Linked DNA regions of Homo sapiens: all the other regions are reported to be linked to region 1. The links are microRNA targets in miRTarBase. Many come from high-throughput screens and were not tested one by one. Region 1 holds a microRNA gene; each other region holds the end of a gene's coding sequence.

The links. The annotated mature microRNA hsa-miR-2113 reads AUUUGUGCUUGGCUCUGUCAC and lies in region 1 at 2,983-3,003, opposite strand. An mRNA with a match to its seed (bases 2 to 7 or 8) in the 3' UTR can be bound and repressed. Matches are read on the target gene's strand: a 7mer-m8 pairs with bases 2 to 8, a 7mer-A1 pairs with bases 2 to 7 and ends in A, and an 8mer does both.
Region 2: miRTarBase lists FHL2 as a target of hsa-miR-2113. The part of its 3' UTR that is shown has no 7-base or 8-base seed match.
Region 3: the mRNA of CD248 is a reported target of hsa-miR-2113. The part of its 3' UTR that is shown has no 7-base or 8-base seed match.
Region 4: the mRNA of FOXN2 is a reported target of hsa-miR-2113. Seed matches in the 3' UTR shown: 7mer-m8 at 2,837-2,843.

The regions. Positions count from the first base shown.
Region 1 is chr6:98,019,640-98,027,588 of GRCh38, reverse strand. MIR2113 (microRNA 2113) reads right to left here and starts at 3,058; the gene lies at 2,968-3,058.
Region 2 is chr2:105,353,582-105,361,530 of GRCh38, forward strand. It overlaps FHL2 (four and a half LIM domains 2), which reads right to left. Exons shown (of 7, transcript NM_001318895.3): 7 at 7,245-7,853. The coding sequence ends at 7,702. It also overlaps a transcript of C2orf49 not described here. Among named protein-coding and RNA genes, the nearest start is that of C2orf49, 20 kb to the left of the region's middle.
Region 3 is chr11:66,308,890-66,316,838 of GRCh38, forward strand. CD248 (CD248 molecule) reads right to left here. Exons shown (of 1, transcript NM_020404.3): 1 at 5,605-7,949. The coding sequence ends at 5,865. Among named protein-coding and RNA genes, the nearest start is that of CD248, 4.2 kb to the right of the region's middle. RefSeq lists a silencer at 3,312-3,561 and an enhancer at 6,904-7,600.
Region 4 is chr2:48,373,354-48,381,302 of GRCh38, reverse strand. FOXN2 (forkhead box N2) reads right to left here. Exons shown (of 7, transcript NM_002158.4): 6 at 7,943-7,949; 7 at 2,008-6,383. The coding sequence ends at 5,860. Among named protein-coding and RNA genes, the nearest start is that of FOXN2, 63 kb to the right of the region's middle.

The DNA of each region.
Region 1 (7,949 bases):
GCAACAGAGTGACAACCAGACCACACCACCTTCCAAAACTGGTATTGTTGCTAATGAAACATAGTAAAAGCAATGGAAATATATGGTTTGGTCTAATTTTGTACTTTCAGATTTTCATTGGAACTACAAGATACCACCAATATTTCCATTGTTGTATTCTCACCAATTCAATGTTTTAAGGAAGAAAAATTATGATATGAGAAATTAGTATATAACTCACAAAGGGCAATGTATCAAGTTAATTTTATAAAATCAAACGAATTGTGTGAATTATTGTTTCTAAAAATAAGCAATATTAGAATGATAAAGAAAGTGTTGTATGAGGCTTGAAGATAGGAATAGCTTTCATCGCTCCTTCAGGGACATCCTACTTCTATGACCACCATTAACTCTTCAAGCCTCTATTTCTTCATCTGTAAAATGTCAAACATTTGTTGAGTGTTGAGCACCAACAGTGTGCTTTGTATTGCTAAATTAACTTATACTAAGCATATAATCTCATATAATTTTATGACAAGCATATGGGGTTGATATTATTTCCATTTTATATGTAAGGAAACTGAAGCTCGGAAATTATTCAAATCACTTAACTAAAGATGCACAGCTAGCCACTATGTATGGCAGAGGCAGAATTCAAACCCAATTTGTCAGAGGTAAAGCAAATTTGGTTTCTATATTTTCTATTCCAGAAGTAGTGGTAAGAATTAAATAAAGTGATAGATGTCAAATCCCCTGATATAACACATATAACACTGGATTTGCTCTACAAATGTCCCTTTCTTTCTCATTTTCTTCTCTGCTCATGGAATAATGGAATTGCATCAAATAAAGAATGAGGGTTGGGCGTGGTGGCTCACACCTATGATCCCAGCACTTTGGGAGGCCAAAGTCGGTGGATTGCTTGAGCCCAGGAGTTTGAGACTGGCAACAGGGTGAAAGCCCACCTCTACAAAAAATACAAAAATTAGCCAGGTGTGGTGGCACACACCTGTTGTCCCAGCCTCTTGAGAGTCTGAGGTGGAAGGACTGATTGAGCTCATGAGGTTGAGGCCGCAGTGAGCCATGATCGCACCATGGCACTCCAGCCTGGGCGAAACAGCAAGACTGTCTCCAAAAAACAAAACAAAACAAAAAATTCCAAAAGCCAAAACCCAAATCAAAAAAAAGAATGAGAAGATCTGGGTTCCAGAAAGGTTTTTAGTATCAAGTGGGGATAATGAGACCATGACTACGAAGGAGCTTTAAAATTTCAAAAGCCCTTACAAATGTAAATTTTTGTTACTCATTAAATGAACAATCACTACAGTATGCACTTGCTTGTGTGGCATTCTCAGATTTTGGTTCCAAAGAGATAAGTGACATTTTATGTTGAGGGCTCAACTCTACATACATCTGTTTAAACCCATCTCTAAGGGAAAAAAAAACCAAAAACAAAAAAACAAACAAAAAAAAACACTTGAATTTCAAAAACATATTATTTATTATTTTGACTTTTTTCTTTGCTAACACAGGTAAAATGACTAAAGTCTAAATTAATTGATTCTAGCCAGGTGGTCTCTGAATTCCTTCCAGAGAGTCAAGTCTATGTATTCAATGACATTACGGAGCTGAATACCATAAGAAACTATCCTGTCTCTCACAGTTTGTCTCTAACTTTCAAAAAATTTCTGTAATTTGAACTTGAGCTATCTGGTCCTTGAGTTTGGATATGGACATTCAGAGAAATATACAGAAATTCAAAGGCCATTGCTCTGTTTTCTGGTTAGTTTTATCTGACTCAGTAGCATCTTTTCTCTTTAACATACACACACACACACACACACACACACACACACACACACACACATTTATGATCAAAGAAATGCCAAAAAGTATGCAGATGTAATATAAGCCAATCATCTAAATGTTTAAAAAATATACAGATGTTAGATTTAATGTAGATAAACCATCTGGCAGATCTGCTTTGTTTTTTACTTTTTATCCAGCTGTTGGATTCTGTGGAAGGACAGCCTAGGTCTATACTTAGATGCGCAAAGAAAATGATGTCAGATGTATATTGCTAGTCCTCTGGAAAACACTTCCTATTCAATAGGTTGTAGGCACCATTAGTGTTCTTGAGAGAGAAAAACAGAAATTCCATAGAGAAATGATTTTTATTTGGAACTGCCTACATTAGAACACATTTCATGGACTATGTTTTTTCATTAATGCATCCTCTTAAAATAATATAGAAATTTAAAGTAAGAATATAATTCCTACTAGCAAAATTTCCATATTCACTTTGACAGCAAGTTAATAAATATTTACTTCCAGGGAGCAAATCATCTTTGGCAGGGTGAAAAAGAGTGCTGCATCAAACCAGGACCAACTTAGAGACCAGAAGATGTTCTACCAAATACTTGTGTCCCTCTTCTAATATCAGCAAACTCACATGTGATGAGGCACCAAAATAAGAAACAGAGGTGGCCCATCAGTCTTTAGGATTGAAATTTGTTTTGAGTCCATTTTATAAAAGTTAAAGACCTCTAGGCTTAATAATTGGGTTTTCAAAAATTCACAACTAAAAAGAAAAACCTCTTTTTCTTTCCAGATAGTGTATATTCTTTTTCCTTAAAAAAACCTAACTACATATTAAAAGGAAAAACTAACCAACATAATAAATGTTACTTCTCTCCTCAATTTCTGTGATTTTTTTTTTACATATTCGGAAGTCATAAGAGGTAAACAAATCTCCTATAATGAAGCAGTTGATGGCCAGTGAAAATGAATGGATGCAGCAAATATTTTGTTAACAATAACATAGCCACAAAATCATAGTACATATACAAAACTCTTAAAAATTATTAAAGGATGCCATGAGATAAAGCAGGAGAAAAAAAACACTGGTGAACAAAAACAATCAGATGCTCTGGAAAGAGTAAGGAGAAAAAGATGGGCATGAAAATTTATAGACAGTTTGAGGGTAGGTTTTCAAAGTGGCATGTGACAGAGCCAAGCACAAATCCTCTTACTTATTAACGGGATTTGTCCCTGTACCTGTCACACATTGCTTTGAAAATATCTGCCTCTGTGAAAGGTATACTGCTTCTCTCCGTCAGTTTTACTCTTAAGAGACTAATGTATAATCTCTTTAGGTTTCATCTTTTGTATTTCTGTGCATATGACAAATTGTTTTGAACACTCTTCATCCATACACATAAGAAAGTAGGCACTAAGGGCTTATCACTGCATATTTAAAAATCCCTGAGATACTATTTTCCTCATTGGAAATAATTGTTCTATTAAAATAATCTCTGGATTTATCACTGAAGAATTTTCAACTAATGCATTCATGTCTTGATGCCGTGAGGCAATTGTTCTCAACTTTATCTGATCCAGTTCCTCCTTTTTATAACAAATACTTTGTAACCCGTTTACTATAACAAAATGAAATTCATAGATATTATAACCACTTCAAGAATATCATAGAAAAAGTCAATACAATGCCCCAACTATAAAATAAAAGAAATAAAAAGAAACAACTTTGTAATATTAATAAAATAGTATATATTTTGAAATGTAAATATTCTAGCACTGCCACATAATGAAGACATGAAGTCAAGTGCTGATACATGTGCACAGAATCATGATAAATTTGCAAAGGCATCAGCCACTAATGCAAACTAAAGTAAGATTGTTGTATTGATGCAGCAAACACCATAGAGTTGCCATCAATGAACAACAATTGGTAAACTTCGAAATAACAATTTCCAATTAATTTATGAGAGAGTTTGATTTCTGAAAAGTTCATTACATATTAAACAATGTAAAAAATCTTCTAATTCCATGTAAATGAAAATAAAATCAAAGTGTGGATAATATTACATAGGTTTTTCAACCACATGAATGTCTGATAGGATACTCAAAAGTTCTGTGAGCATAGGAGAGTTTTTCAATGAGAGCCTCCCGCAAGCAAGCTGCAAATGTCTATCATCCCTTGACTCCACCCAGGAGTCAGTGGTGGCCCTGGCTCCACACCATGCAATTTTTATAAAAACCTAATACATCCCTGCAAGTTTCCAAGGTTTTCTTTAGGGTGTGATACTCCTCCCACTCCGTGAGAATCACTGTGATAAGATTACAAAGAAGGAGAATTATAACAAATAATGGTACCTGTACCTTTTTGTTTTTATTTCGTTTTCCCTTTACTAAAGTGAGGCAGAGCTTCACTTTAAAAAATCCATCATGCAACTGACATTGAATTTACATATTTGTGGCAGCAACACTCAAAAGAGTCTTCTCATCATAACTTTTAGTTAAAAATAAATGAACTTAGCACATGTATTAGGAACATTTGAGTGAAACTTACTTAATGGAGTATCACACATGATATGTTTGACTACTTAACTTTAAAATAGAAGAATAGACTTTTTCTTAGGAATTACATTCTATACACATAAACCATTTATCCAGACATGCACAAAAAAATATAATTTGTAAAGCAGAGGAAAAAAGGAGATGCAGAAGGAATATGGGAAAGAAAAGAAATAATGGTGAAAGCTGTTGTTTCAACGGAAAAATAACTTTGCACATGACATGATATGATGCTAGATTTATTATTCCATTTATCCATTTATCCTTAAAACAAACCAACCATAGACATTTACCTTAGAAATATAAAGTTGCTTATTTCTGTGCATACAGTTTTACAGAACCATGGATTGATGGTTTCGTAAGGTATCAGTCACACTTCCATAGCATTTGCTGATATAAATATAAAACCTTCATTTTAAAGGATAAATAAAGCCACACTATTATCTAAACAGGGTAAAATTTAACATCCTTGTGGTTTGTGGAAATTTTTGATGTGCCTGCTGGCTTTTCAATAAAAATCAATTATGCCTTAAATGCGAGCGGTAGTCAACATACTACAGACTATAAATTCAATTTCATACTCAGAAATATGGATTAGCTGAACTTGATGCCCTTCCATTGATTTCAGAAAGCAAAAGCTGATAAGGTAAATAATAGTAAGAGGCTCTCTGACACTCCACATCAAGTTCCGGATTTCCATATTATTTTTGTAGAATTCTGCAGTCACCACAATATCCTCCTTGTGAAATATGTATGATGAATAGATATTATATGGATTGCTGATTCATCTCCCCATACAGAATGGATATTTGGCTTTCATAAGTCAAGACAAGAACTGCACAGAAAAAAGAATATGCTTATTTCTCTAGGCTTACTGCAAGGTGTATGTCAACCGATCGTGAACAAATCCAGTGGGTAATTAGAACACACGGATTAAGCACTGAGATCCCACCTATAAATAAAAATTGTATAAACCAGGAGCAAATTGATATGCTTCAATTCTTTAATGTTTTATATGTGTGTGTATGTATGTGTATTTAGGTATGTATGTTTTTACATATATGAGATGGGGAGGGAGGGAGAGAGACAGAAAAATAAGAAAAGCATTTTTAAAAACTGAAAAACATCCAGTCTTTATGTTCATTCAAAAGAGCACCTTAAATTGGCAAGAATCTCATGGGGGAATCTTGAGAGGAGAGGAGAGGAAATAATTTGGTACTAAGGAATCTAAGGAATAATGATCATGAGGAAGAAATTTAGAGTAGTTTTTAGCATAATGGGAAATCCAATCACATCTGCAACAATTTTCTCCTTTTCTCCTTTAATGTGCAGAACATTTAGGTTTTATAGAACTGTTCAAGTCCACACTTTGAGCATTTTATGGCTTAGCCATTCTCTTTTTCAGTAAGCCTGGTGTGCTCAGCTTAAATCCTAAAGAGTTCTATAGAATATTTCATACACAGGCCCAGTCTCACCTTCCATCAAAACGAGTTCCTGCTTTCCTAACACAAACAAGGATTGCTTTGTCACACATCCAGAATGCCAACAGAGCAAAAGTATGACTCTTATTAGGTCAAAGATGTACATTCTTAAAAGTTCCCTGCAGCTTTCCTAGATGCCAGCATTTTGGAGATTTCATATAATCATTTTGGTAAAATCCATGGCCTAAGGTCTCTGCTATCTCAAAGAAATTAATTACACATGAATTTCTCAAGACAGAGGTAATTGACTTAAATACATTTATAGGTTATTTATTTCACTGAAGTATACTTATTTTTATTAAAGTATGCTAATCATGAAAGCAAGCTGGATAAAATCTTATAAATACCAAATGGGACACATCCTAAGGAAAATATTTCCAATGGTAAGTAATTTTTATATATTCATCCTTATAGTGTCTGTTAATCACTACAATCGTTTTTGAGAAAAGTGGTAACAGAGTTGTTGTGGATTCTTTTCACAAATAAGAAATTGTTTATATAAGAAAAACATAAAATCACAATAGGAATGGTACAATCTGATTTGTTGCCTTTTCAGTTATTTACTTGTCTGAGAAAAAAGTCAACAAGCATTTCTTTTCTGCAAATCTTAGAAATCTGTGTGCATGTATGTTTGTTTATGAATATACTTCTTTTCATAAGAGGGAATATAAGAGCAAACACATTTTCACCAATGTCTTTTCAATCTTACTTAAATTTAGTAAACAATATATATAGAAATTTTATTTTTCTTATACCAGTATACACTCAAACATCTGTAAAACATAAAGTTTCTCATAAATATGTACTATGTAAATTATAAAATTTTAAGTTTCAGTGTTTGAAATGAACGCTATCTTTGAAACCCATGTAATACAAAAATGCCACAACCAACAATTTTCATCATATGTTGTAACGGTGAATGAAGCCTATGAGGAAAAAGGCATCACACTGTTTATGAAAAAACAATTCTTGTAGATACACTTGGAAAACTGCAAACATTCATAAACAGTTACTCTTTGGGGATAGAGAAAAACTGCCATTAAACAGGTGTTAGAATTTAAATGACATCTCATTAGTGACTCCTTTTTGCAGCTCAGAGACAAATAAAACCTTCATTTAAAAGCATTAGTGCTATTCCTTAGGGTTTCTGGTATCATAATGTTTTGTTTTATGAAGATATTTAGTTTCTTCCAGCATTCTTGCTTATTTATACAAAATAAACCAATTGCATTTCTAAGTTTAGCTGAGTGTGAATTCAGGGGGTGAATAAGGCCCTTCCAATTGCTGTAAATACCCTTGCCCCTCCCTCCATTTCGGTGAGTCTGGGAGGTTGAAGCACAGCCTGATAAACAAAGGCATTTTTGAGCTTCACTTCCAGGCAGAGATTTAGCCCTTGCGTCCTTTGCCCTCAATTAAGGAACAGTCATATAAAACTCAGATTTTCTTGATGTCAGAGCCATTAACTATTTTTCCAATTGCTCTCAATGCAAAATGTGAAGCCATCTCTATAATTCAAGAATTATACCAGAGCATATAGCTATTAAAAATTACCTGCTAATTGAGTTTATCCCACTGCCACTATAGACTATCCTCACATAGACAACTTCAGATCCCAAAATGTGAACCCCAAGATTAGCACACAGAATGCAAGTCTCAATAGACAACCCAGGATTATAAGAATTCATTCATCTCATCATTTTGAAAAGTGACACACTCCAAAATTTAATTCAGCTGTCCGAGATCCTTGGAATTCAATTCATTGTAATTCTATACTGTATTTGGAGAAGTATCTACTAAGACAAACAGTGAAGAAACAATAAATTTCAAGTAGTTGCTTGCCATCAAATATGATAATTATTTTTCAGCACGACTGAGGAATTGCACTGATATGTTTTGGAAATACAAAGATAATTAGAACAGATCTGGCTCAACAAGAGCTTAAAAATGGAGCAAAGTTGGTGGTGAAAGAAGGGATAAGACAATCTACAAAGTTAGTGAAAAAAGAAGGTGTAAGACAATTGCCATATATCTATAATATTATTAGGACTATTGAACAGTTAGAAAATGCAAGGGGATGACATTCACAGAAGAAAAGATGACGCTGTATTCAGAGAG
Region 2 (7,949 bases), not on the chromosome of region 1:
TCTGATTTCTAGTGTGTTGGCCTCTTTGCAGTCTTGAGTAAGCTTTATTCTTCCTGGGCTTCCACTTCCTCCTTTGCAAAGCAGATGGATTTCACTCTTATCCTTAAGACTCTTCCAGATCTTACTTCTTGGTATTTCTAGAATTAACCTTATCCTTATCCCTGAGCCTCTGTAATCTATCATTTAATAACTAGGCAGAAAATGAGAGGTACCCTCAAGTCTGAATGGGCATCACTAAAGATGATTGAGAATTGAGTATATATTTTAAGTTTCTAAAGTAATATGATTAAGTGATATGCAAGTTAATATAACTTTTATTTTGCTTTAATATAACTAGTTTTACAAAGTCTTGTCCAAAGGAGTTAGGGTTTATTTATTGTGCTGACTTAAAGACTTGAGGGCAGCCCTCTGCTTACAAATTGGATAGTGTCTAGTTGTAGCAAGTCAACAATGTTCAATACATATACCTCGGGCTTCATTTTTGTGATCACAAGGTTTTCTTTGCTAGTTTCTAAAGTTCTGCTCTATTAACACCACTGAGTTCTTTTGCAGGCATTTCTCTAAAGTTTTTCCAGAGATAAAGCTTTCACTAAGGGCAATATTGAGGGAGTAGTAACCATTGTAGTTCCAGGGCACATTGCACCACAGCAGATATATTTAATGAGTTTCTTGCCTTGTTTATGGTTCATGTAGAATGATTCCCTCATCAGTGAAACTGTTTCTTTGACTTACTTCAGTGACTAAATTTTCATTGTTCCGGTTGAGGGTAGACTAGTTCTATTAAGCATTTTATTATACCCTGGCCAGGTGTGGTGGCTCACGCCTGTAATCCCAGCACTGTGGGAGGCCGAGGTGGGCTGGTAACTTGAGGTCAGGAGTTCGAGACCAGCCTGGCCAACATGGTGAAACCCCGTCACTATTGAAAATACAAAAGGTCAGCCAGGAATGGTAGCAGGTGCCTGTAATCCCAGCTATTCGGGAGGCTGAAGCAAAAGACTCAACTGAACCCTGGAGGCAGAGGTTGCAGTGAGCCCTGATCGCACCATTGCACTCCAGCCTGGGCGACAACAGCAAAACTCCATCTCAAAAAAAAAAAATTAAAAAAGAATTTTATAATATCCTAAATATTAAATATTATCACAAAGTTTAAGTATGTAATTTATTCTACAAGGTAGTTGTGCATTTAAATTAAACCTTAAGCCAATGAAATAGATGTGATCAACGTAAATCTTAACATTGTAGAATGTGTAACAAAGTAGAGGTAACTAATACAATATTTATAATTAGGTTTTTCATTTGCTAAACAGAGAAAAATGCTTGCTGTTAAATGGAAGGAGCAATTCTGCTGGGAAAAAACATGGGTTTTTCAAACATAAAAGCACAGAAGAGCTGACAGGCTAAGAGACAGCAAGAACCCAGAGAAGCAGGCAATCTTGTTTGATGCTCTGTTGAAACTCAGCTGTAGTTTAGGTGACTGTAATGTAAGGGAGAGAGAAGTCAAATCTCTGAGTGTTCCAAGAGGGGAACCTAATAGGTATGACCTCAAAAAACACCACCACATATAAGTGTGAATTAGAAATACATCTTTCCTTTTCATGCATGGAGGGAGGGAAGAAAAAGAAGGAAAAGAAGGAAGGAAGAATAGGAAAGGGAAAGGGGACACAGTGGGGTGGAGGCAGGCAAGCCGACTCTCATACAGACTTGTAGCTAAGATTTACATCCCCAGGAAGGTGAAAGTAACTCTGGAAATGACTGGGAAGTAGTTCTAGTCTGGTGGTAGCCCATGTGTCTGGTAAAGACAATGACAATCGTCTCTGCAGGAAGACATCCTTATTCTAAGTCTCAAGAAACACCCCGGATAACTTTTTAAAGGTAGTGATTAACACAAGTCAGAGTTATCCTTGCATACAAGAAAACAGTGGACCCAGTGTGGGCTGCAACAGAAACATCAGGCAGTAGAGACTGACCCCCAAAGGTTTCACATATTGTAATAATCAAGTAAAGATCAAACAAGTTGGCTTGCTGTTTAATGAAAAAAAAGACAAGCTTTAAAGTAACTCAGAGTGTACTCAAGTGCACTCAAGTTCAAAGTGTAACATATTTTAAACTTTTAAAATTTTTACTGAGTTACAATAAAATGCTGTAAAGTTAGAAAAGTTCTAAGTTATATAGCTCAGGAGAAAAAATTTTGTGTGTGTGTGTGTGTGTGTGTGTGTGTGTGTGTGTGTGTGTGTGTATCACTACCCAGATCAAGATACACAGTACAGCACAGGTGGCAGGTTTTTCTGTAAAGGTCCAGATAGTAAAAAATTGCCAGCAAACCAATGCGTAAATGAACATACATGGCTGTGTTTGAATAAAACTTTTTTGTTAAGAAAACAGACCAGGTGTGATGACTCATGCTGGTAATCCCAGCGTTTTGGAATGCCAAGATGGGGGGAATCGCTTGAGCCCAGGAGTTTGAGACCAGCCTAGGCAACATAGTGAGACCTCATCTCTACAAAAAAAATTTTAAAAATAGACATCAGCCAGGTGTTGTGGCTCACACCTGTAATCCCAGCACTTTTGGGAGGTCGAGATGGGTGGATCACCTGAGGTCAGGAGTTCAAGACGAGCCTGGCCAACGTGGTGAAACCCTGTCTCTACTAGAAATACAAAAATGAGCTGGGCGTGGTGGCAGGCGCCTGTAATCCCAGCTACTCAGGAGGCTGAGGCAGGAGAATCACTTGAACCTAGGAGGCGGAGGTTACAGTGAGCCAGGATCATGCCACTGCACTACAGCCTGGGCGACAGAGCAAAACTCTGTCTCAAAATGACAACAACAAAACACACAGGCACACACACACAGCCAGGCATGGTGGTGCGTGCCTGTAGCCCTAGCTACTTGAGAGGCTGAGGTGGGAAGATCACTTGAGCCCAGAAGTTCAAGGTTACAGTGAGCTGTGATCATGCCACTGCACTCCAGCCTGGGAAACAGAGCGAGATCCTGTCTCAAAAAAATAAAATAGGAAAGAAAACAGGCAGTGGGCAGAATTTAGCCCAGGGACCATAGTTTACAACCCCTGATACAGAATATTCCAACATCTCATTGGTTTAGTTTTGCCTGTTGACATTTGCTTTGTGTACTTTTGTATATGTATGTTTAATTTCCCAATTTAATAAAAAGTCTTAATTATATAGCTATATTATTTTACATCTAGCCAGAGTTTTCTCATTATCTTTGGCATTCAGCATTTTGAATGTAATGTGTCTGGGTATGGTCTCTGCATTTATCTTACTTTGAGTTTATTGAGCTTCTTGAATATGTAGATTAATATTTTTCATCAAATTTGGGGCCTTTTTCAACCATTAACTCTTTTTTTCTTTTTCTTTTTTAAGAAGGTCTCACTATGTTGTACAGGCTGGAGTGCAGTGGCTGTTCACAGGTGCTGTTTTCTCACACTGCAGCCTCAAACTCCTAGACTCAAGCAATTCTCTCACCTCAGCCTCCTGAGTAGCTGGGACAACAGGCGCATGCCACTGCACCTGACTAGTCATGAACTCTGAAAAAATATTTTCTCCTGTTCTTTTTTTCTCTCTCCTAGCCTTCTAGTCCTTCCATTACACATATGTTGGTATGCTTAATGGTTTCTCACATTTCTCTGAGGCTCTTTTAATTTCTCTTCACTCTTTTTTCTGTTTTTCAGATTGTATAATTTCTGTTGTTCCGTCTTCAAGTTCACTGGTTTTCTTCTCCTAACTCAAATCTACTACTGAGCCCCTCTAGTGAATTTTTCATTTCATTTAGTATACTTTTCAACTTCAGAATTCCATTTGATTTATTAAAAATAATTTTTATCTCTTTATTGGTTTGTTTGGTGAGTAAAGTCATCTCTTGGTATCTGTGGGGGATTAATTCCAGGACCCCCTACAAATACCAAACTCCATGGATGCTCAAGTCTCATATAAAATGGCATAGAATTTGCATATAACCTATTCACATCATTCTGTATACTTTAAATAAATCTCTAGATTACTTATAATAATACCTAATACAATGCTTACACATCACTTCATTTGCATGGATTCAACATAGTACTCAGCATGTGGAAGATCCAAGTTTTGCTTTTTGGAACTGTGTCAACTTTTTTTTTTTTTTCCTAAATACTTTTGATCCACAGTTGGTTGAATCCACAGATGAGGAATCCATGGATATGGAGGAACAACTGTAATTGTTCCTTTACCTTCCTTTTTTAAATATGATTTCCTTTAGTTCTTTGAACAAACACATTTATGTGTTCAGCCAGTGTTTGGTCAGAGGTTCTGCTTAAGCACTTTGAGCTAATAAGATTTCTGCTCTTTGCTGATGGATCTGTGTATGCCTTAGAGAATGCTTTCAAGTTTGTTTCACATCTGATTGCTCCTGAGTGGATACAGCCCTGTCCATACATACTTCCCGAACCTCAAGGATAAACCAGATTCCAGGAGGGCTCTTCTTGGCTATCTCTTTCTCTGGTTTTCTGTGTTAAACTTCTGGCTGGTCTGTCATTTTGCTTTTTGCTACTAATAGCATGGAGTTACCAGCCCCTTCCTTAATGGCTCACTGGTAAGATGTCTTATTGTTTTTGACAATCCCCTTAGGCAAAGATTTCTCGTTCTCCGTACCAAATACCAGTCCCCTTGGGCATAACTGCTGGGTTACCAGTCTCAGAGCCTGGATCTCCTCTGGGGGCTGGACAGCAGCCTGCTTCTCCAGGACTGACATCCCTTCTCTGTGAGTGGGTTGATAGCCGCTGGTCTTCTCAGATTGCCCCTCCCAATGTGGAGCCTCCGCACTAAGCAGGCTAGGGTAGGGGCAATTGGAGCTCTACGATTCTCAGCCTGTCGCACCTGGGGCAAAGCCCTAGACTGGTAGCTGGAGGAAGAGAGACCCCTTAATTTTTGGCTGCATTGGTCCAGAATAGAGTTTGTCACATGAAGCTGGGGAGTGGGGATGGGATAGGATGAGGCTGTGGCTCAAATGCCACAGACTCACTGTTCTTTCTAAGACTTAGTAGTGGATTTTCCTGAATGAATGTTTATTTGTTGTATGCTTCTGGGGAAATTTTCAGAGACTTTGTGTTGTGTGGTTTATATACAAGTAATTTCCTTCAGTAGGAAGAGGGTCGGTCAGCTAAGCCCTGCAAACCACTATCTGTAAAGTCCTGTCAGTCAATGCTTTTAGCCTTGGCTGGGCTGCTTGGAGTCTGGCCTAAGTATACACGGTTCAGTTGTCAGCCAGAAATTTCTAAGTTCATGCGACGAACTTGGGGCTCTCCTTTTCAGGATTTTCTTCCTCACTTTCCAGAGGCTGTTTGTCCCGAACTCTGGCCTCTGGTTCCTCAGGCCAGTAAGACTGCAGGTTTCCTAACAGAGTTTTAGATCCCTGGCGGGGGCCTGCCATTGGATAAAAGGCCGAAACAGGAAAATCACCCAGTGTCGTTCTCTTCTTCCAAGTGTCTACTGCCCTCCAATATCTGCCTGCTTTGGATCGTGCTCCAGTGTTCTTAACAATTAAATAAATATTTTGTCCAGAATGACTGTTAATTTGGAGGAGAATTAGTCCAATTGGAGCTATTTACTAGAAGTGGAATTCCCCCTAACCATTAATTTTAGAATGGGTAATTTAAGGTTGGGAGAGTCTATGGTTTTAATGAGGAACAAGTAAGATGTTCCAAAATGAAATTTGGAGTGCTTTTACTTTTATATTATGAAGTAGAAAACAGCAAAACAACTAACAAAGGATGAAATTATTCTTTTTAAGCAAAACCTCAAGTCAACTATAAAACCAAAAGACTCATTCCAGACATTATCAAACATTCTAACAGTGACTAACACTCAGATTAAGAAACTGATTTCACATATGCTCAGCATATATCAGACTTGATTTCCACCAAATTTTTCTGTTGCTCAGCCTATCATTTTATTATATTGCATTGTCTTAGAAAACTAAGGACAAAAAGGTCACTGATGCTCCCATTCTAAAGAGAACTGTGCAATGTTCTATCCCATACATTGGCTCCGTGCTTCCCAACTGTATACTGCTATCTGAGATTATTCCACAGACTACTGCCACACTAGTAGCTCAGAATGTTATTTTTACTGTAATGACTGTGTGTCTCTCCTGCTTTACTGCCCTTTTCAGAAACACTGAAGGCTCCCAGTGTGCCCTCAGTTGCGAGGGTGTTGAGAACATAAAGATGAACAGGATGTCGTCTCTGGCCTCAAGTTGCTTATGTCCTTGTGCAATCTTTCACTTTATGGAAGTCGGTGTAAGATGTGGATCCATAACACTGGGACAGAGCCGATAAGCTCTGCCAAGAAAAATGACCTGAAAATTGGCTTCACTGTCAGTTTATGTTACTGTGTCAAATGCAGAGGATTACATTCCAAGAGAAAGAGTATGGGAAAGACAGAGAAGGTAGCTGGGTGCGGTGGCTCATGCCTATAATCCCAGCACTTTGGGGGACCGAGGCAGGTGGATCACCTGAGGTCAGGAGTTCAAGACCAGCCTAACATGGTGAAACCCCATCTCTACTAAAAATACAAAAATTAGCCGGGCATAATGGTGGGTGCCTGTAATCCCAGCTACTCAGGAGGCTGAGGGCAGGAGAATCGCTTGAACGCGGGAAGTGGAGGTTGCAGTGAGCTGAGATTGTGCCATTGCACTTTAGCCTGGGCGACAGAGCGAGACTCTGTCTCAAAAAAAAAAAAAAAAAAGGGAGAGAAGGTAGCAAGGAAGAGGTGCCTGGTGCTGACTGAAGGCTTTTTTTTTTTGAGACGGAGTCTCTTTGTCTTCCAGGCTGGAGTTCAGTGGTGCCATCTCAGCTCACTGCAAGCTCTGCCTCCCGGGTTCATGCCATTCTCCTGCCTCAGCCTCCCGAGTAGCTGGGACTACAGGCGCTCACCACCACACCCGGCTAATTTTTTGTATTTTTCGTAGAGACGGGGTTTCACCATGTTAGCCAGGATGGTCTTGATCTCCTGACCTCATGATCCACCCGCCTTGGCCTCCCAAAGTGCTGGGATTACAGGCGTGAGCCACCGTGCCCAGCCGAAGGCTTCCTTTAAAGGGTGTGATGCTGTTCCAGTTGGCAATGCCCCAGGCCATTGGAACATTGGAACTGCACTTCATACAGTGACCATGGGACCATGCAATAAAGTGTTACTTAGACTCAGTGCCTCGACCTGTAATCATGATTTCACACTCTGTGCCTGGCAAAAGATTCTGTTCTGAATAACTTTATTGCAAGTCACATAATCTTGGTTTAGACTTGACGCAACGGGAGGTTACAGAGCTGTAAATAACAACTGGTCATTACCTTATTGAGTTTAGAAAACTTTCAAGTTCGTGACATATGTTAATTGCACTTAAATAGACAGTGAGAGAAAGATTTATAAAGGCATCATTCAAAAGGATTTTTACATTTGGGTGTGCCTTACTCGATTACAAAAATTTCAAACCATCTTCCCACCTAGGGCCTAGGGCGAGTTTTCTCTTTCCCTGGGACTGAACTATCACAAAGCACTAAAGGGTTTAAGCAAACGTGAGTATCACTGAAAAGCACTAGAAGAAAGTCTCAATGTGGCTGGAAGAAACCAGAAGGCAAGATTGCCTGGGTGAGAAAGAAAACATAAAAATCTGTGTGTGAGATCACAAGCAGCAACTTCTCTGTGTTGAATTCAGATGTCTTTCCCACAGTCGGGGCACAGGATGTCGTCCCTCTCTGTGAGGAAGCCACGCCCCACCAGTGAGAGGGAGCACTTCTTACAGTTAAAGCAGTCGTTATGCCACTGCCGTTCCTCAAAGGAGATGTATTTTGTGCCACCAAGTCCTGTTAACAGAGAGAAAATAATACCGGATGAAGAAAGTTAGAATCAGGCAACTGGGACTGAAGAAGGAATTCTGGTTTGATCCATTTCAAAGTTTG
Region 3 (7,949 bases), not on the chromosome of region 1:
ACAGGCGCGTGCCACCGTGCCTGGATAATTTTTTGTATTTTTAGTAGAGAGGGGGTTTCACCGTGTTAGCCAGGATGGTCTCGATCTCTTGACCTCGTGTTCCGCCTGCCTCAGCCTCCCAAAGTGCTGGGATTATAGGCGTGAGCCACCGCGCCAGGCCGCCAACAAGTATTTCTTATGTTGTTTGGACCTAACTTTTTTTTTTTTTTTTTAAAGCAGGGTCTCTCTCTCTCTCTCTCTGTTACCCAGGCTGGAATGCAGAGGCATGATCTCGACTCACTACAACCTCCACTTCCTGGGCTCATGTGATCCTCCCACCTCAGCCTCCTGAGTAGTTAGAACCACAGATACATGCCACCACACTCCGCTAGTATTTTTGTATTTTTTGTTTGTTTGTTTTTAGAGACAGGACTTTGCCATGTTGCCTGGACTGGTCTCGAACTTCTGAGCTCAAGTGATCTGCCCGTCTCGGCCTCCCAAATTGCAGGCGTGAGCCACTGCATTATGAAATGGAACTGTGGAGTAATTCTTTCATGACATTCATAGGCCAAAAAATACCTAACAGCAGTTCGATAGTGTCATGAAAAAATTACTATGTTGTTGGACCTATTTATGAAATGAAATTGTTAGGTATTTTTTGGCCAATGGTGTCAGGAAAAAATTACTGAGACACCCAAGACAAGTGAAGGAGAGTGTTCGAAGCCTCTACCTCAGGGATGTGGTGGGCTTCAGACGTCAGTTTCTGCTGATTCAGCTCTCCCCGTGATCAGTTTCTGGACTCTGTCTTCAGGGATCCCCAGAGCCAGCTAAAGCAGATGGTGTCTTTGATAGCAGCTTCCTGCACCATCCTGAAGATACTCATAGGCTTCAAGCAGGAAACCTTAGTTTTCCTCATATAGAATCCTTCCTCCTCTATAGTATCTCTGCTTTTCAAATGAGGAGGCAAACATAGAGCAATAAAGGAATGTCCCTGAGCTCCCCCAGCCATTAAGCAGTGGAGCTGGCATGCAAACAAGGCTGATGCAGAGTGCTAGCTCTTACCACTGTGCTAGTTGGCCTCCCAGAAAAATCACTGGACTCACTGAAACCAGGCTAACACATGAGCCAACAGATGCCCCAAGGCCGCACCTCGCCTGGGCACATGGTCCAGATCCCACGATCCCAGCAAATGCTTTATTTACCAGCATCACCTGCCAAAGCCACAGACGACAAACTCTCCTTGGGGGAAGAAGGCTTCAATCTCTCTGGTCAATCTCAGTGCCGTCAGCCTCTCTGAGAGTCTGCGTCTTGCAGCCTCACCCTTAAAAGTGAGTTTCCCAGGGTGTGGGCATTTTCTTTTCTTTTCTTTTTTTAAACAGAGTTTCACTCGTCACCCAGGCTGGAGTGCAGCTCACTGCAACCTCCACCTTCTGGGTTCAAGCGATTCTCCTGCCTCAGCCTCCTGAGTAGCTGGGATTACAGGTACCCTCACCATGCCTGGCTAATTTTTGTATTTTTAGTAGAGACATGGTTTCGCCATGTTGGCCAGGCTGGCCTCGAACTCCTGACCTTAAGTCATTCCCCACGCCTCAGCCTCCCGAAGTGCTGGGATTACAGGCGTGAGTCACCGCGTCTGGCCAGGTGTGGGCATTTTCTGATTAGAGACTTGGCTATCACATATGGACTGGCTTTGCTGTAGGGGGTAAAGATCACAGGATCTGCCTGGGTTCAAACCCCCACTTACTAGTTGGTCAACTAGGGCAGATGGCTTAATGCAGTTAGGCAAGTGCCTTCAGCTTCCTACTCTGTAAATTGTGGTAAGAACGGCACTTACTTCTTGGAGGTTGTTATGAATCTTACATGGATTAAGCCAAGTAAAGCCCTTAAAAAAGGACCGGGCATGTAAGAAGTGCTTCAAGGCTGGGCATGGTGGCTCATGCCTGTAATCCCAGCACTTCGGGAGGCTGAGGTGGGTGGATCACCTGAGGCGAAGAGTTCGAAACCAGCCTGACCAACATAGTGAAACCCCGTCTGTATTAAAAATACAAAAATTAGCCGGGCGTGGTTGTGGGTGCCTGTAATCCCAGCTACTTGGGAGGCTGCGGCAGGAGAATCGCTTGAACCTGGGAGGCGGAGGTTGCAGTGAGCCGAGATGGCGCTATTGCACTCCAGCCTGAGCAACAAGAGAGAAACTCCGTCTCGAAAAAACAAAAACAAAAACAAAAAACAAAAACAAAAACAAAACAGAAGTGCTTCAAGCATTCACTATTATTATCGTCAGTATTTAGCGCTAAACCCTATTTACATTTGTAATGGCTAGTGCACGAGCATTGGAACCTGGTCTGGAAAGTATCCCTCTCCCCAGGCCTGATTTGCCCGGAGGTGGGTAAGGGCAAGGTTGGCAGCTAAGGCAGGAAGCAAAGGGCCCAACTGGAGCTCAGTGGTGTCAACTCCCTTCCTCCTCAAGGGTTGCTCCCTGTCTGTCCCACTAATGTTTGAAAAATATTTTACTGGGTTCCTAGCCCTGAACTTCAGCGTCTCCTGCCCTCCAGGCTGTTATTTTCAGAGGTAGAGATGAGAGCTGAGATAGGGTCTCCCTTGAGACACTGTCCCTAAAAACTACGACCTTCAGCTCCTAATTGAGGGCTTCCCCGCCCAAACCCACCCCTTCGCAACACAGCCCCCAGGGAAGGTGTCTAGCCTTTGGAGCACTAGGTGGGGGCGGGGGAAACCTGGTCCTAGGAATTCTAGGCCGCCAGATGAGAGGCGATGCTTTCGCCCTCCAGGCGAAAGGATTTGTCGGGGAGAGACAGCAAGAGTTCGACCAGCCAGCCACTTTAGAGATTGTCAGGGGCGCTCAGCTCATAGGGTGGCTCGAGGGCCAGTGCGAAGCTCCCTTAGGGACGAATTTCCACATACGACGAAAGGCATCTGCGAAAGGATGGGCTGTCCCGTGGGGGGAGTCGGCAGATATTTAAGTAACACTAACATTTAACGAATTAAGCAGCTATTTCTATTTACTGAGCAATTAGTACGCTTTGAGAGAGAGGCCCTACCGAGGCCTCGCGGTGGCTGTAAGTCCGTGGGGCCGAGGCCAGGTGGCGCCAAAGGCCCATCGACGCCATCTGCCCGGCTGTCCGGGCCCAGTCTCCGGGCTCGCCCAGAGAACCCGAAATCTGGACAAACGGAAACCGTAGGTGGAGGAAGAAGAGGGCTCCAGGGCCAGGTTCAAGGGCATCGTGGTGAGAGATGAGGGGTTCGGAGGACTGGTGGATCTGGGCATATCGCGAAGGTGGTAAGGGACCCAGGGGTGGAGTGGGCGGTGCTTGCGCCAAGAGGGTGAGCCTGAGTGTGGGCGGGGCGTGCGATAAGAGGCTCGCTCGGTAGCGCTCTTCGCAGAGCCGTATTTGTGCGCTACGCCGCAGCCAGGGCGCTCTGGGTGGGCGGGACTCCAGGGCCCCCAGGGGCGTGGCTTGCATCTTTCGTGGGCGGCCCCGGGGGCGGGGCTCCGTGTAGGTGAACCGCTACCTCCGCTCGATGTGTGAGGTGTGACAGTCCTACGAGGGCGCAGTTCTTCCACTTTTGTGAGCTTGAGAGGGGGCGGAGCTTGTAGCTGGGGACGGAGCCTGAAGAGGAGGTTGAGGGGAACTTCACACGTTTCCCTGGAGGGCGGAGTTTACATCATCCCCCAACAGAGTTAAGACCTCTGAGGGATTCCCTGCAGTGTCCAGGGCTCTGTGAGGCGAAGCTTGCAGTTGTGTTGGGCGGGGCCTGTAGCGCCGCGTGAAGAGAATGTGTAAACTCGGGGCGAAGTTCATACCTCCTAGAAGCCGAGACTAATAGTTCCGCCAATCTGCGCGCGCCGAGCGGAGGAGGTGGGGCTTGTAGGTTGTGGGCGGGGGACTGGGCGGGGCCAAGAGGGCAGGGGGCGGGCACAATCGCTGCTGGAATCTTTGAGTTGGCAGGGGCGGGGCTTGTGGCTTTGTGGGCGGGGCCTCTGGAGAGCTCCCGGGGGCTCTCTTCTGTTCTGCAGCGAGTAGGCGTGGCTCGTAGCTCCCAGGTCCGGGCTGATACCGCTGGAGTATGCAGTTCGCCGCCGCGCCCGAATGAGGCGGGGCCTGCGAGTAAGTGGGCTGAGCCCGGGCTGGGCGCAGGCCGGGGCTCTGCCCTGGGAGGCCGTCTGTTTAGGCCCGCACGCAGCTCCGCATCTGGTGCTCATTACCAGATGACAAAGAGCCGGCTCTGGGCCCCCTTCCCCACTCCCATCCCCCGCCTCCGACTGCAGTGTATTTAACTGTTTCCTGCCCTCGAGGCGCTCTAGATCCCTACCCGAGGTCACGGAGGGGACTCCAGACCATCCCGTCTCTGCAGGCCTTGTCGCTCCCCAGGCTTCCTCACCTCCTTCCCAGACTCAGCCGTCTGGGCCGCCTCGCAACCCTCATTGGCATCCAGCAAACCTGCCCGACGGCGTCTCCGAGGTTAAAGCTGTGCAGGATCTGGCGGGGACGTCTGGTTTGAGTTAGGGGAACGTGAGAGCGGGGACCGGGGGCGGTGCGTAGCGTTCCCTCCGCCCCCTCCGCGACCCCCTGGTTCATCCCCAGCTCCGGCCCCTCCTTTCCTGGTTCCCTGGGGCCCAGCTCAGCCTTCCAGCTCAGGTCCAGGCCCGAAGGGGGCGCTGGGCCACTCCTCCTCGCCTGCCCGGGTGGTCGTGGCGGCTCTGCCCCGTCCTAATTAGAGGCCCCCAAGAGGCTGTAACTGAAAAATTACAGAGGCGGTGGGAACTGGCGCCTCCCCTCCCCAGGTCTCACCCCCGCCCCCCAAGGCAGTGAGCACGAAATGAGGGAGGTCACTCCCACCAGGCTGTGATCTTTGACCAGGCCCTCCAGTTCCTGGGACACTTCAGTCCTGAGCAGCCGGAGCCCTCGCTCAAGCTCAGGTCTGCTGAGCTCTGTCTGTCCCCCACCACCCCCAGCCAACATGGACAAGAGCAACGTGCGGCCCTGGCAAAAGGAGGCCTTGCTCCTGCGGCTGTCCAAGCAGTTAGCATGGGATCTCTCCCAGGTTCCCGGCCTTTCCCATCCCAGCCTCCTCCCCGGAGCAAGCGGAGGAATGCCTCCAAGAGCACCCACAAACCAGGGGTTGGCAGTCCCCTTGAGTTACCCTGAGCCCCAGCCCCCAACTTCCGCGAAGCTTACAGGGATGGGAAGGGAAGTGTCTGAAGAAAGGAGCAACTCACCCACTAGACCCCTCCTTCACTCCTCTGAATCACCAGCCCCAGAGCCTACTTTGACCCCTAAACCCCAGTCCGGTTCAGCAGATGCCCTAATTCCACAACCGTCCCCCAGATTCAGCCCCACCTTCTTGGAGCTTTGGTAAAATAAGGAATAAATATGAAATTCTCCCCATGCCAAACCTCCCACTGCTGGGCTCAACTGTGTGACCTTGGGCAAGGCTCTGCCCTCTCTGGGCTCCTGCTTCCCTGAGAATCTCTGAGGCATACCCTCCCTTAAAGGGATCTTACCTTATCTCTTTGAGGACTCAGACAAACTGAAGGAAGATCCCCTCCTTTTTGCTGAGTCCTCCCAGAACCTCCCTTAAGCACCAGTGGGGGTCAGAAGCCTTGGGTAAGGTTGACACCCCATTTATTGGAGAAGACCCCAGCACCCGCCCCCTGAGGTCTTAAGGGCTTTGGTGTATCCTTGGTCACGAGCGCTGGGCCAGGAAGCAGAGTTCCTGAGAGCCAAGTCTAGTGGTTGAGAGAGGACCCTGGCTGGGCCTGGGGAGCAGGAAGCCATCTGTCCAGCTGGGCAGCCCCCATGGGTCCCTGGTGCAGCCCCGGCCATGTGTCCAGCGCCCCATACTCCATGAGGGGGGTCTGCACCCCATCACACGCTGGTTCTGCAGGTCTGCACCCCTGTGAGGCTGCCCCTGGGGGGCATGGGTTCTGTTGGGCTCTTGCTCCCAGCATGGATGACCCAGCGATAGCAGTCAGTGATGCGCTTGTTGGGTGCATGGGGGCCACAGCGGGTGCAGTACACGATGCCCAGTGCAAGCAGGACCACCAAAAAGACACACGTTGGCACCAGGAGTGCCACCAGCAGCCACCGGTCATCCCTCTGGCTGTGCTCGGCAAGACCAGCCTCCCCCAGGGCTGTTGGGGCTGCTGTGGGAGCTGGTGAGGGCAGCCACAGGGCCAACTTGGGACTGGGGCCATCTTCCCTTGGGATTTGGGGGGCTTTGGAATGGGGATGTGTAGGGCTGATGGGTGAGGTCTGGTTAGTGGGGCTCTGAGAGGGCAGGAGGGTGGGGAGGGCTGCGGGCTGGGTGGCAGCAGGCACAGAGATTTGATGGGCAGGAGACACAGGGGACCTGGAGGTGGTGGTCAGAGAGGGCTGGGCAGTTGGGATAATGGGAAGCTGGGTGGCCTGGGTTCTGAGGACAAGGGCATCTGGGGCTTGAGGGGGTAGCTGGGCACCGAGGGTGGTGACCAGAGGGGCATGGTTAGGTGGGATTCCAGGCAAATGAGTGGTGGTCTGGGTGCCAGCGACCCGGGTGTCTGGAAACATGGGGGACTGGTGGGCAGGGAAGAGCTCCGGATATTTGGTTGAGATCATAGGGGGCTGGTGGGCAGGAGGCTGTGCTGAATGAGAGACAGAGAGAATACCGGGTTGGTAGGCAGAAGGCAGATCTGGATAGTTGGCTGCGATCACGGGGATCTGGTGGTCACGGGACAAAGCTGGGTGTGTGGCAGGGATCACAGGAGGCTGGTGGGCAGAAGGCAGTGTGGGATGCGTGGCAGAGACCACCACAGGCCGGGTGACGGAGAGCACTGAGGAGTGGTAGGGGACCCTGGGGGCACTGAGCGGGGGTGGCCAGGTGGGCTCCGGGTAGGGTATCTGTGGCTCTCTGTCCTCTGGGAAGCTCGGTCTATAGGCCAGGGCAAAGTCAGGCGGCTGCGTAGGCTCCATCCACAGGATCCCAGGCATCTCCGTCCAGCCACCGTTGAAGGCCTTCCAGGCCTCGTCTTCATCTTCCTCATCCTCCCCGTCATCCAGCAACTCATCTCCGAGGTCCTGGGAAGCCTGGGCACCCATGGCCCCTGCAGGGCTGCAGCTGATGCCATCAGCCTCCAGCTCATGTCCCTCGCTACAATAACACTCGAAGCCACCAACGTAGTTGACACACATCTGCTGGCACACACCGGCAATCTGGCACTCATCTGTGTCCACACAGCGGTGCGGATCATCCTCCGCTGGCCGGAAACCCAGGCGACAGTGGCAGCTGTAGCCTTGTGGCCCACCGGGCTCACACTGCTGCTCGCACGGAGCCTGGGCACAGGGGTCCTCGCAACTGCGCCCGTCTGCTGCCAGCCGGAAGCCCTCAGTGCAGCGGCAGGACACGTGACCATCCACCTCCTCCACACATTCGTGTTCGCAGCCCCCGTTGTCAGGGCTGCAGCCAGTCCCCAGGCACAGGGGCCCAGCCCGTGACCAGCCCACACCTCCCTCAGGCTGCTTCACGCAGAGCAGAGAGGCTCCCCTGCCAGCCTGGCACTGCACAGCGGCCACAGAGCCGAAGGGCAGCCACTCAAACTCTGTGGAGACCAGGTGGAAGGGCGTGGTATACACGGCTGGGCCGGCCTGGCCCGCCTCATCTTGCAGCGCCGGGCAGGCGCCCTCGAAGCCAAACTGGCACAGGTAGCCGTCGACAGCCAGCGTGCACGAGCCCTCCAGCCAGCGGTGCTCGCCACTTGCCTCCAGGGCCACACAGCGCTGGGCCGGGCAGGGGCCTCCAGAGGCTGGCTGGGCCCAGTTGGTGAAAGCCGTGTCCTGGTCCCCTGTGGTCCACGTGAAGCCGCGCAGTGGGCGCTGCAGCTGGCATTGCCGGGCCTGCCGCTGCAGCCCGATCCACAGCAGCCGGCTGGCTGGGCCCGCACCCACCAGGCTGTCCACACGCTGGGCCTCCTCGGG
Region 4 (7,949 bases), not on the chromosome of region 1:
ATATGGTTAAGATACACAAATACCATTGCATTACCACTGTCTACAGTATTTGGGACAGTAACATGTTGCATAGATTTGTAGCCTGAGCTATAGGCTATCTACTATATAGTCTAGTTGTGTCGTAGGCCATACCATCTAAGTTTGTGTAAGTACACCCTATGATGTTCCCACAGTAAGAAAACAGCCTGATACTTTTCTCAGAAGGTATTCCTGTTGCTAAGCGATACAAGATCGTAGTTGGAATCACAGAAATGAGCCTTCTAAGGCTCAGTAAGTGAACCTTTCAACTAAGTCAAAGATTGGCTTCTTTCACTTAGTAATATGTGTTTAAATTTCCATCATAGCTTGATATCTCATTTTTTTGTTTTTCTTATTTGTGGTAAAATATATATAACATTTACTATTTTTGTGTGTACAGTTCAATAGTGTTAAGTACATTCACACTGTTGTGAAAACAATCTCTAGAACTCTTTCATTTTGCAAAACACAAATTCCATGCCCATTAAACAACTTCTCATTCCCCTCTTCTTCCAGCCCCTGGCAAACATCTTTCTACTTTCTGTCTCTATCAGTTTGACTACTGTAAGTACCATACAGTATCCTTCTTTTTCTGACTGGCTTATTTCACTCAGAATAACGTCCTCAAGTTTCATCCATGTTGTAGCTTGCGTCAAAATTCCCTTCCCTTTTGAGGTGAAATAATAATCCATTGTCTGCATGTGCCATATTTTATTCATTCATCTATCGATGAACATTTGTGAACCTTCCACCTTTTGGCTATTGTGAATAATGCTGCTCTAAACATGGGTAGACAAACACCTCTTTGAGAACCTGCTTTCAATTCTTTTGGGTATGTGCCCAGAAGTAAATCTGCTGGTCTATTTTTAATTTCTTGAGGAACTTCCATACTGCTTTTCAGTGACTGCACTATTTTGAATTCCATACTGCTTTCCATAGTGGCTGCACAAGTGTTCCAATCCTTGCCAACACTCGTCACTTAGTTTTGGTGGCGTTTTTAACCTTTTAATAGTAGCCATTCTAATGGATACGAGGTGGTATCTCATTGTGATTTTTATTTGCATTTCCCTAGTAATTAGTGATGTCGAGGATATTTTCATGTTCTTTTTGGCCATTTGTATATCTTCTTTGGGATGTCGATAGCTTTTAAAAAAAATTGCTGTATAATAGTCTGCTGTCTGGATGTACCAGTTTATACATTTGCCTACTGACAGACATCTTATTTGCTTCCAAGTTTTGGCAATTATGAACAACGCTGCTGTAACAATTGTGTGCAGGTTTTTGTTTAGACATGTTTTCAACTCATTTGGGTAAATATCAATGAGTGTGATCTGTTTATCTTTTCTGGTGAGGTGTCCGTTCAGGTATTTAGCCCATTTTTAGATTGGGTTTTCTTATTGTTGCATTTTAATTCACCGAAGTTGTTGAACTTATTGGCATAAAGCTCTTGATGACTTTTTTTTTTTTTTTTTTTTTTTTTTTTTTTTTTGAGATGCAGTCTCACTCCGTTGTGTAGGCTGGAGTGCAGTGGTGGGATCTCAGGTCACTGCAACCTCCGCCTCCTGGGTTCAAGCATTTCTCATCCCTCAGCCTCCTGGGTAGATGGGATTACAGGCGTTCGCCACTATACCTGGCTAATTTTCGTATTTTTAGTAGAGACGGGGTTTCATTATGTTGGCCAGGCTCGTTTCATATTCTACTCCATTTTTCCCAGTTATATTTCAAAATATTTCAGATACATGTAAATTAATAGGAAAAGAAGTTTAACTTTAGGAAGATAGTAATTTAATTAATGTCATTTTAGCTTTCAGTAATTAACATCTAAAAACCATAAAAAATACTTTTAAAAAAATTGAAATTAAACTGCATTTTTCATTTCCTTGACTCCAATTTGAATGGAAAGTGTGTGTAGAAGTATAGCCATCACATCTGCCCTACCATCCTTCTCCTGTCCCACCCTATCCTACAAAAGATCAGAGAAAGCACAAAAAAAGTTATAAAACAAAATTTATTATGCAATACTTTCTCATAATGAATTGCATCTCTTTGGTAAAAATAAACTTTATAAACATTTTAATAATCAGAGATTAGATACAAAAACTAAGTATTTGTAAGTTGTTTTTAATATGAGCAAAGATTGGCAACTGAGAAGTGGTTCACTTGTGACTGGTCATCTACTGGCAGTTATAACTCAAACCGGGACAATTTTTATGCTACATCAGAAAAGAGGATAAGGAAACAGTTTGATAACAAATTTGTTGAATCAGAAAGCATTCTTACACTTTCATTTAAAAATAAATAATAGTTACAATCAATTGGCAATTATACATTTTTATACACTATATGATGGCAACATAATACTTTAAAATTAAGCACTTAGTTTAATAAGAAATGTACAACGATTTAAAAAATAAGTTTTGACAATGGCACTGGCAGTTAGATGCAAAGAATATGCTTTAAGAAAAAAAATGGCAGGTATAACATTAAAATACTCGAATTCACCTTTCAATAAATATTTTTACTACATCATTAACATACTGAAGTAAACTTGGTTTAAATCAAAGCTTACACATTTCAAACTAAAAAAAAAAAAAAATACAAAAAAACACCTGTAAGATATATGTAAACCAGAAAGCCTCACAGTTTCTTAGATAAATGCTGTGATCTTCACAAAAGGGTGTTAAGTTGTTGTAGTATTTAAGACAATGGTCTTTACAGCTTTGTGAAGTATTCACATCTGTTGCTTAAATTGCTGGCAAAGGCCTCCTGGTCTACCAAGACATATACATTCCCTCCTTAACACATTCTCTAGTTTGACTTTGTGCTAAAGTATATTTAACTGAACATCTAGTATGAGCCCTTTACATAATGCCTCAGAAAGTAGCAAAAAGAAAAAAATATATATATACTAAACTTTACTATATACAAAGGAATCCAAGTTAAAAGAAGTCATGCTGGCTATGAGGACAGGAAAGGCTTGAAGGTGGAAAAAGGGAGGTGATCCACCTTTTCCATGAATTCAGGTAATCTGTTTTCTTTCTCTGAATTTGGAAAAGTAAAATAATAACTGATTTAGTAATATATTGCACAAAAAAACTTCAAAAATATATATTCAAGAAACAGTGATTCTGTTTGGGATGTGAAGATGAACAATTGTGTTGAATCAAAGCTTTTTACTAGGGATCTATTATAAACTGGAATCAGCTGCAACAAAACATATTCTTTTGACGTAAGGCAAATTATATGTTAGCTTATATCACAGTTTTTAGGATATGTTGGAAAACATGTAACCTCCTTGGAGTTTCTAAGTTGACTTTATTACAGGAAAATTTGTATATTATAGGGAATACAATTTCCAGGCCATAGGACTTGGAATGACTCTACTTAATTGTGTGGTTATTAGTCATGTTTCTCAAAACACCTGAGGAATGAGAGCATACTCTCAGTGGAAGTAGTAAATGGAGGACCATAATTTAAAAGGTTCTTCCCTTGAAAATAACTGACTTGGTATGTTAGCAAGTGGAAGGTGATGCATTAAATTATGTTTAAGAAACTGTAAAATATTGTGTAACCTCTCCCTGTTAGCTTTCAGTGCACAAGTGTTTATCATCCTTGCTAGTGATGAATATAACTTAAACATTTAAATTCGTGGGAAGAGTGAATAAAAAGGAAGAGAAAAATCAAAAGATGTAAAGAATTACTGTTACATACATCAAGACAAAATAACTTTGAAGATCCCTATTAGAGCTGGAACTAACTCTGCTTCTCTTTCCTTTCCTTATAAAGAGTAATTATCTAATGGACAAAAACCAGGTAGCACATTTGTGATACAGAATTTCAGCAGAACAAAATAAACTGGTGCCAGATCACTGAAACACTGTTCCTAAGGTCTATACAGAGGCTATGGTAAATAACTTAAAAATAGTTATTAAGATGATGTGTATAATCTATTATTTATACTGTGGTTAAAGCATTTTTGGGTTTTTGGTGTTTTATTCACTGTCTATAATAAAAGTTAACTTGGTTTAGCCATTTTCTGTAGATGTGATCGATCTAAAAAAAAAACCCAAATACCTCATCCTGCATGCTTAAGGGTTTTCATTATTAACAAATTTAAAAATTACTATATTTTGACAGCACCAATTCATTAATGTGGCTATCCAGGTTAAATTAAATTTAACATGGAAACAGAACAGAGAACATTAATACTGTTATCCCTGACTTAAAGTCTTGTCAATTGAAAAAAAAGTTTTTAAAATCATTTTTCTCATTTGACAGTTTTGCCAAAATAAAAATTAAAAGTTAAAATTTGTCTCTTAAAAAATGCTTTATAATCACAGAAACAGCTGAAAGCAAATCAACATCATGACCTTGACTGTGCATATGTGTATATGTATGTGTACATATGTATACAATCTATCAGAATAATGAAAACAAGGTCATTGTCTATGACTTAGGATGTAGCATAAGACTGAACTTTCAGAAAGTTGCTTCCACCATTGTAAAAAAAAGATACAATGAATTAGTTTAGCATCCTATTGTTTCTGAATAATCTAATCAAATTATACAAATGATACTATGAAAAACTGTCTCATATAAGCAGACTGTTCAAATAGTTAAGATACTTAGTCAAAGCACTTTTGGAGTAGTACCAGAAAATCTTTTTCTCATGGATCAATGGCACTATAGGTTGTTACACTGCCTCCTCAAAAAGGTGTATTGCATAAGATCAAATTTTATATGAATTTTGAAATTCATGAAGGTATTGTGTCTGTAAAATTGCATTAAATCTATTAAGATTTAATTTGGTATACTTATGAATTTAATTCATACAAAGCTTGGACAGAAGTTTTTTCCTAAATGACCTACTTTATGTATGATAACATGCCATCAGTACTCAAAATGTTTCATTTCACTCCATTCCGATTATAAGATTCTCATAATACAGTACACATGGCAGGCAAATGAAAGATTCTCTTATTACAAGTGTGTCAAAATGGGTGTACTCCATAACACACTTAATTGGCTATATCCTCTCACTGGATAACTTATACTCAACAAAGGCAGCTAGTGGCTAAAACTTAATGTTTGCAAAGCACTTTGGGAAAGAATAAAAGGCCCCAATAAATGCTATGCAGGATCTCTGAAGTAAAAACACTTCAAAGCTACCATTCTAATAGGAATTGGGAGTGTTCTTGGATGAAATGACACCACAAAATTGTCTTTTCTAAGTCTTAGAACTCTTTGTTGTATTCTCTACCTACGTAACCAAAAGAAACTTTCTAAACATCAGGATGTTTTTCAATTTATGTTTGTCTTTGCTCACACGACAACAAAAAAAAAATTAGAAACAAATTAAGACAAAGTAAAAAAATTTCAATCTTATGTTACCGGATTGCGTGTCAGGAGAGAAGTATATGAAAAATACATCAGCAAAATTTTTAGCTGGTTCAGTAACTATAGTTACAGATTGGAAAAGAAAATGAAAAAAATTTATCGAGTTGCCAAATCTTACATTCTGACATATTAACAGAAGAAAGGATTTTTGTCCCACAAGTTTAAGACAGAGGCTGGGGATTTTCTTATATAAAAATTTTCAAATCTTGGACACATTTATCACAAAAATTATGCTTTTAGGACTTCACATCATGTATTTCTGATCAGGCATGATCCTAACAGCAATTGTTTAATAAAAATTTTAAAAACCAAAAACCAAAAATGTTTTGAAAGAAATAAGTAATTAGTATCCCTTCCCTACCCTAAAACTAATGAAGTCCATTATGGCTTTGATATCCCTTGTAAAGAATTAAGTGAAAGAGTATTGCCACACTTTAAGTATTTCTATTTTTTCCGTTGCTTTTGATTTTGTGTCTTTGCAGTACTTATTAGGGAACCTAAACATGTACGAATTCCAGCAAGGTGGAGCAGAGATCCAGCTGCCTCTTTGAGCTCCTCATCAATTTCTTGACATGTCTGTTTTCGCATCTTTTTGCCTGACTGCCCTTTTTCAGAGATTTTTGCACAAGGCTGTGATGCATAGCCACTGTCTCCAAGAGGATCATCTTCATAATCAACGTCTGTATCTTCTTCACTGTGAAATCCTTCACTGCCATCACTTCCCACGTGACTATTCTTTGGGATAAATTCATATACCTCATCCACAGAAGACAGGGAAGACACGCTAGACCTGGATGCACAACGCTGTGCTGCCATGCTACTTGCACTGTAATTGTGATCTTCTTTTGGATCAATGCTGGTGGCTAAAGAATCACTCTCTTGTAATCGTACAGCACTGGGATGATGAAATGCATTGCCGTAACTCCTCTTTTTTTGCAATGCTGTTTTAAGAGGAAGAGGCTTCTCACCTGTGGAAAATAAAAGTTCCATCAATAGGTCAAATGTGTTTGGTTGCAAAAACAGACCAATTTTAAACTACTACATTACTCTTGAGCAACAAATGTTTTAGATTCATGATGCTTTGTAGATTTTTTATTTTTTTTTACCCAGATCACATCATTTTGCAAGCATTAATTTGAAACATTTAAAAACCATTTAACAATGTCTTGACTTTTCTATAGCATATGTAACTATTTTGAATTGCTTACAAGGAATGCCTCAATATGAATGTACCACTGTTTAGCTAATCACTTCCGTGTTAATATTTAGGCTGTTTCCAATTTTTCATTAGTATAAATCATGCTGCAATACAAATCCTTCTGGATGCCTTTTCTTGAATATATGCAAGTAATTTTTAAAAAGAGATATGAAAAAATTGCTAAGGGATATATACATTTAAAATTATAATTGGTATTCTCAAATTGCCCTCCAAAGTGGTTGTACCAATTTACTCCCAACAGTGTATGACAAAACTTACTCCCTACTTAACACCATTCTCAATTACTTAAATTTTTTATAATTTTATGGACAAAAAAGTTACCTCAATATTATTTCATTTTGTGTTTCCCGAATTTCTAGCGAAGTTACACATCTTTTCACATGTGTATTGCCCACATATATTTCCTCTTCTAAGATCCACCTAGTCATATATTTTGCTGACTTTCCGGTTGAACTGTTTTCTTATTTCTTACTTGCAGAATCCTTTTTATGTATATACTTGATACTAATCCTTTGTTATATATGGAAAAAACATGTCTCCAGCATTTTATGTCACTTTTCTTAGATATATTTTGTTGTCAGAATGCTTTTTTTTTTTTGGAGACAGAGTCTCACTCTGTCCCTCAGACTGGAGTGCAGTGCTCTCCAGCTCACTGCAGTGCTCATGGCTCACTGCAACCCCCACCTCCCAGGTTCAAGCAATTCTCCCACCTCAGCCTCCTGAGTAGCTGGGACTACAGGCATGCACCACCACATCTGGCTAATTTTTGTATTTCTTGTAGAGATGGAGTTTTGCCATGTTGCCCAGGCTGATCTGGAACTCCTGGTCTCAAGTGATCCACCTGCCTTGTTCTCCCAAAAGTGCTAGGATTACAGACGTGAGCCACCATGCCTGACCAGAATGCTAAAATTTTGATGTTTTATTAAATTTACCCATTTTTTTCCTTCATGGATTTTGCATTTTGTATCTTAAAGAAAGCTTTTCCTAGTCCAAGTTCATAAATATACTTTACTTATTATATTTTCTTGTTTATAGTTTTCATTTTTACTTTTAGCTCTTTGAGTTCATTTTCTAAATATATTTTTCTTCATTTCTTGGTCAATGTAAGAAAAATCGAAGCATTAACTTCAATCTCTCAATTGCTCACATAAATTAATGAAAGTATAATAAAACAGAAACTGAGTTACTCAGATCAAAATACAATTTGGTTGGAAAGAAGTAATTTTTGTCTGTAATAGTTATTTTATAGTCTAGGTTAAATTTGAAAAGGCACTAAAATTTTTTTTTAAAAAAGGCATGATTACTTACATTCTAA